Linked DNA regions of Homo sapiens: region 1 is linked to region 2. The links come from fine-mapping of genetic effects on gene expression. A gene starts in region 2. The other region holds a variant in brackets. All regions are shown on one strand. Distances are between the middles of the regions.

What was found.
Region 1: its variant is fine-mapped to the expression of ATP6V0B in tibial nerve (GTEx, PIP above 0.99). The same link has a PIP of 0.9 or more in cerebellar hemisphere, cerebellum, cerebral cortex, gastroesophageal junction, ileum and prefrontal cortex.

What each region holds. Positions count from the first base shown.
Region 1 is chr1:43,940,179-43,943,190 of GRCh38, reverse strand. It overlaps LINC02918 (long intergenic non-protein coding RNA 2918), which reads left to right and starts at 2,650. Exons shown (of 2, transcript XR_947283.2): 1 at 2,650-2,961. The variant G/T (reference allele first, on the strand shown) is at 1,541.
Region 2 is chr1:43,973,454-43,975,953 of GRCh38, reverse strand. ATP6V0B (ATPase H+ transporting V0 subunit b) reads right to left here and starts at 994. Exons shown (of 8, transcript NM_004047.5): 1 at 847-994; 2 at 106-154. The coding sequence starts at 913. LOC124904167 (a long non-coding RNA gene) reads left to right here and starts at 1,089. Exons shown (of 2, transcript XR_007066053.1): 1 at 1,089-1,511; 2 at 2,067-2,500. RefSeq lists silencers at 456-505, 906-955 and enhancers at 175-1,007, 1,206-1,255, 1,306-1,425, 1,008-1,841.

The sequences.
Region 1 (3,012 bases), 33 kb after region 2:
CTGGCCCTCTGAAGTTGCCACAGGCACCCAAAGTTGAACATGTACAAAACTGAACTCACATTTTCCCCACATCTTACCCCTATCACATGCTAAAATACTACATCCCCTGTGTTCTGTACCAGTCCCCCAAGCTAGACACCTGGAAACCATCTCTCATCCAGCCCTCACCTCTCTTATTGTCCCTCACATCTCTTCTGTCCTTGCACATTTGCTTCTGCCCTAACTCAAGGTACCTGTGCTTGTTGCCTGAACGGCTCTAACTATGGCAGCTCTAGCTGGCACCCACCTTGCCTCTTCCATCCATACTAGACACAGTAGCAAGTGATCCATCTGAAACACATCTCTAACCAAGCCCACTTAAAACCCTTTAGTGGCTCCTTTCAGAGCGAAGGCTGAGCTTCTCGGTATAACATTCAAAGCCCTTTGTGACCTCTCCAGTCTTTTGTCTTGATGAGGACCCTCCCCAAGTCCACCTGAAGTTGCTGGCAATCCTGGGAGCGCACCAGGCTGTTTCACACTTCCCTGTCTTTGTTCATGCTACTTCCTCTGTTGAGAAGGCTCTGTGTCATTCTGGATGCCATCAGGAGAGAGACATCACACAGTCAGCAGGCAGGGAAAGTTCAACATAAGCATTTTGAAGTGTAACAGGGAATTGAAGCTGTGATGAACTGGCTAGTAAGAAGTAAATAAATAAATAAATAAACAAATAAAAATCTAAAGAATATAGGACTAGCAGAGTCTTCAGGCTGAGATGGAGAGCCCAAGGAAGAGGCCCTCACCTCTCCACTCCATTCCTGTCCAGGGCTGAGAACCACACCGTGCAGGACAGGACATGGCCACAATGAACAGTGTACATTTAGAAGTGAGAGGAAATAAAGGCAATCAGCAATAACCAGTTCGGGTTCCATGCCTCTCATCCACCCTATAATCCACCCTGTGCAAACAAACTCATTTTTCAAGACTCAGTTCAAATACCACCTTTTCCACAAAGACTTTTCCTCTTCTGCGTCTATCCAGGAAAAAACTGATTCCTCTTCCTTTGTGATTGTAGAATCTGCCCCCTCCTTGACACACATACCTATAACCTCAGTCATACTTCTACTGGGGTACTTGTTTACCCCTACCTAGGGTTGCCAGAAAAAAATCAGGACACTTATTTATTTTTTTTTTTTTTGAGATGGAGTCTTGCTCTGTCACCCAGGCTAGAGTTCAGTGTCACGGCTCACTGCAACCTCTGCCTCCCAGGTTCAAGCAATTCTTCTGCCTCCTGAGTAACTGGGACTACAGGTGTGCACCACCATCCCCGGCTAATTTTGTATTTTTAGTAGAGACAGGGTTTCACCATATTGGCCAGGCTGGTCTCAAACTCTTGACCTCGTGATCCGCCCACCTCGGCCTCCCAAAGTGCTGGGATTACAGGCATGAGCCACCGCACCTGGCCATCTATTTAATTTTGAATATGAGATAAACAACAATTTTTTTTTTTTTGAGATGGAGTCTCACTCTGTCGCCTAGGCTGGAGTGCAGTGGCACGATCTCA[G/T]CTCACTGCAAGCTCTGCCTCCCAGGTTCACACCATTCTCCTGAGTAGCTGGGACTACAGGCGCCCACCACCACGCCCAGCTAATTTTTTGTATTTTTAGTAGAGACAGGGTTTCACCATGTTAGCCAGGATGGTCTCGATCTTCTGACCTCGTGATCTGCCCTCCTCGGCCTCCTAAAGTGCTGGGATTACAGGCGTGAGCCACTGCTCCCAGCCTTTTTTTTTTTTTTTTTTTTTTTTTGAGATAGAGTCTTATTCTGTCACCCAGGTTGGAGTGCAGTGGTACGATTTTGGGCTCAAGCAATCCTTCCACCTCAGCCTCCCAAGTAGCTGGACCACAGATGCACGTCACCACACCTGGCTAAGTTTTTGTATTTTTGGTAGAGACAGGGTTTCACTATGTTGCCCAGGCTGGTCTTGAATTCCTGAGCGCTAGCGATCCACCTGTTTCAGCCTCCCAAAGTGCTGGGATTACAGGGGTGAGCCACCACGCCCAGCCAATTTTTTTGTATAAGTATGTCTCAATTATTGCATTGGACATACTGAAAACAAGTATTTAGGCCAGGCATGGTGACTCGCACCTGTAATCCGAGCACTTTGGGAGGCCAATGTGGGAGGATCTCTTGAACTCAGGAGTTCGAGACCAGCCTGGGTAACATAGCAAGAGCCCATCTCTACCAAAAAAATAAAAATTAAAAAAATTTAAAAATTAGCCAGTCGTGGTAGAATGCACCTGTAGTCTTAGCTAGTTAGGAGGCTAAGGTGAGAGGATCGCTTGAGCCCAGGAGGTGGAGGTTGCAGTGAACTGAGATCACACCACTGCACTCCAGCCCGAGGGACACAGCAAGACCCTATCTAAAAAAAAAAAAGGTGTATTTATTGTTTACCTTAAATCCATTTTTTTTTTTGAGACAGAGTCTCACTTTGTCGCCAGGCTAGAGTGCAGTGGCACAATCTTGGCTCACTGCAACCTCTGCCTCCCGGGTTCAAGCGATTCTCCTGCCTCAGCCTCCCAAGTAGCTGGGACTACAGGTGCGTGCCACCACGCCCAGCTAATTTTTATATTTTTAGTAGAGACCGGGTTTTACCATGTTGGCTAGGGTGGTCTCACTCTCTTGACCTCATGATCCGCCCACCTCAGCCTCCCAAAGTGCTGGGATTACAGGCATGAGTCACCACGCAGGGCCTGAAATCCAAATTTAACAGGATGTCTTTTACTTTTATTTGCTACCCTACCCCTACTTCCATCTCCAAGTATAGTTTCCTTGATGGCAAAACATGTTTCTCACTGGTCTCTGAATCCCTGAAACTAGCCCAGTGCACGACAGTTCATGCTCGGTTAATATGAAGAGAAGGCAACTTATCTGGCTGCAGCGCTGAGAATGGTTGGAGGGAGTTGTGACTGGAGACAGTGAGACCAGGTAGGAGGATGAGGAATAAACCATCCAAAAAATTATGAAGGCTTCAGCAGA
Region 2 (2,500 bases):
TGTCCCAGGCAGGCAGTGGTGTGGGGGAGGGACTCAGACCAGAGAAAAGAAGAGAGGCTGCAGGGAAGAAGCTTCAAGGGGAATCCTCCCCCTGCCCTCCCTTACCATGCCACATCAAAGCGGAAGCCCAAATCAAAAATGGTGTAGCAGACTCCTGCAGCAGTGAGGGAGAAAAAGGGGGTTACGGGCTGCTCGGTAGAGAGAAGTTCTTCAACCTAAAGTAGCTGCCGAGCTGAAGGGCCACCTCCCTGAAGGGGCGTCCTCAGGCTGCCCCCAGGTGACAGTACAGCTGTGTAGACAGATTCCTCTGCTTAGGCCTCCATTTTCTGCCATTCCCTCGCTAAAACCACCTCCCAGACCAAGCACCTGCGCAGGCAGGGTCGCCACCCGCAAGCCCGAATCCGAGGCGGGACCGAGGGAGCAAGCGCTCCAGCCAGATCCCGCCGGCCCAGTCCGTTCCGCTGTTTACCCAACAAGCTGTGGGTGGGGGAGGGCAAAGCGACTGGGAAAAGAGGAACCGGAGCAGCCGGCTTGTGACCGAGCGGGCCGGTCAGGAGCAAGAAAGGGGGGACAGCAGTGAGACGTGGGAGCGAGGGGAGACAGCGATAGTGGCAGGACGGGGGAGTGCTGCCCTCGCGGCCCCTACCCGCCCGCACCCCTCCTCAAGCAGCTGGAAATCCGGGTCTCCTTTGTCGGAGTCAGAGGCCCTCGCAGGCGCAAGTCCCCAGAGCCTCGGGTGCAGAGCGCGCGGGGGGCCAGTATTCCCCGCAGGCCACTTCCCCGCCGAGTTCCGACCCGGCCAGCTCGGCCGCGATGCTGCTCCCGCCCGCCAGGACCCGGCCTCACCCACGGCCAGCGCGCAGGCCCAGAAGGCCACGAAGACCCCGGAGTAGAGCAGTGCTAGCCCCGTCATGGCGGCGACGGCGGCGGGGGTCGGAACGGCGGGGCCGGAGCTACAAACGCGTCCCAGCGTCCACCGTCCGTCCCGCAGTCTGTCCGCCCGCCCCGCAGCGTCACCTAACTCGCCCACGTGATGCGCCGGTACCACGTGACCCCACGCCGGTTCCCCGCGCAGCGCCGCCGCCCGTCTAGAGCAAGGCGACGCTGGAACCGCAGGCGCTGGGGATTGTGGTAGTTGTAGTCACGCGTCTCGGCGGAGGCTTGGGCGCCCTCCTCTCTAGGAACTTCGACATCTGGCCGGTCCTTCTCGAGTCTCTCCACCTCGCCCTGCCAGCCCTGTTTTATTCCCGAGCCTGCTCGCGGGCCCCTAAGGCGTCCTCTCTGGCAGCCGTGCGTCCTAGCCTGTGGCGGGTGGCGCCGCGCGTGCCCTCTGCCTCACCTTGCTCACGGCGTCTCTCCGCCCCAGTGCGCCTGTTGGCGCTCGCTCCGCTGCCTGGCTAACACCTGCTGTCCTCCGAAATCGTCCTTCCGGCAAGCCTTCCCTAACCCAGTGGCAGGGAAGCGCGTTTGCTGGGCTCCCGCGATGTCCTGGTGATGCTTATTAAGCTTCAGTAAGATGTCACTACCCTGTCGAAATGCCCTGATGGCTCCCATTTCATTCAGGAGAAAAGCCAAAGTTCTCACAATAGCCTGCTAGGCTCCCCACGCCCCTCAGCTGACTTCACCTTCTAATATTCCCCCACTAACTCCCTCCTCTGGCTGCACTGCCCTCCTTGCTATTTCTTTGAACGTGCCAACCATACCGCGACCTCACTGCCCTTGCACTTGCTCTCTCTGCTTCTCCTAACTATACATGCGGCTCATCCTGTAACTTCCTTTCAGTTTTTGCTCACCTTCTTGAAAAGGCCTTCTCTGACCATTCTGTTTAATATTCCACCCCACTTAAACGCTCCTCTGCTTCCCAGCTTTACATTTCTCACGGTACTTACTGATCACCATTTGGCATACTAAGTATTTTATTTGTCCAACTCCCCTGGAAGAGTGGAAGCACCATGGCTTTTGTGTCGCTCACTGCTGTATTTCCAGTACCTGGCACAGAGTGTGTCCTCAGTACATATTTGTAGAACACATGACTGATGCCCACTTTGTCTGGGTTACCTTGTTAGCTTACAGCTCTGCCTCCACCATTAGACTAGGCATTCCCTGAGGGCAGGGACCACATCTCCTTTGTTCACCTTCAATACCCTCGACAATGCCACTGTGACCAGATTCTCAACAAATGTGGGGAAGAAGAGGCGAGTCTTTTCATTTCACCCCTCTCCACCTTTAGGGCCCAGCAACCCCACTTGCTTGAAGCATCCGCCATGTTGGTTCATGTTTAAGCCCAAAGGTCTTTTTCACTCCTTTTCTCCTGACAATTATTTTTTCCTCCAAAAGATCCAGCATAGGTGTTATGCCCTCTGGGAAGCCTCCTCTTAGTCCTTGTCAGGTATCTCCTGTGGGATCCAGCTGTCCCTGGGGCTTCCCTCCTCCCAGATAGAGCTGTTTCACTGTGTACTGACTGCGTATTTAACTCTCTTTCCAGGTACACTGGAAAGGA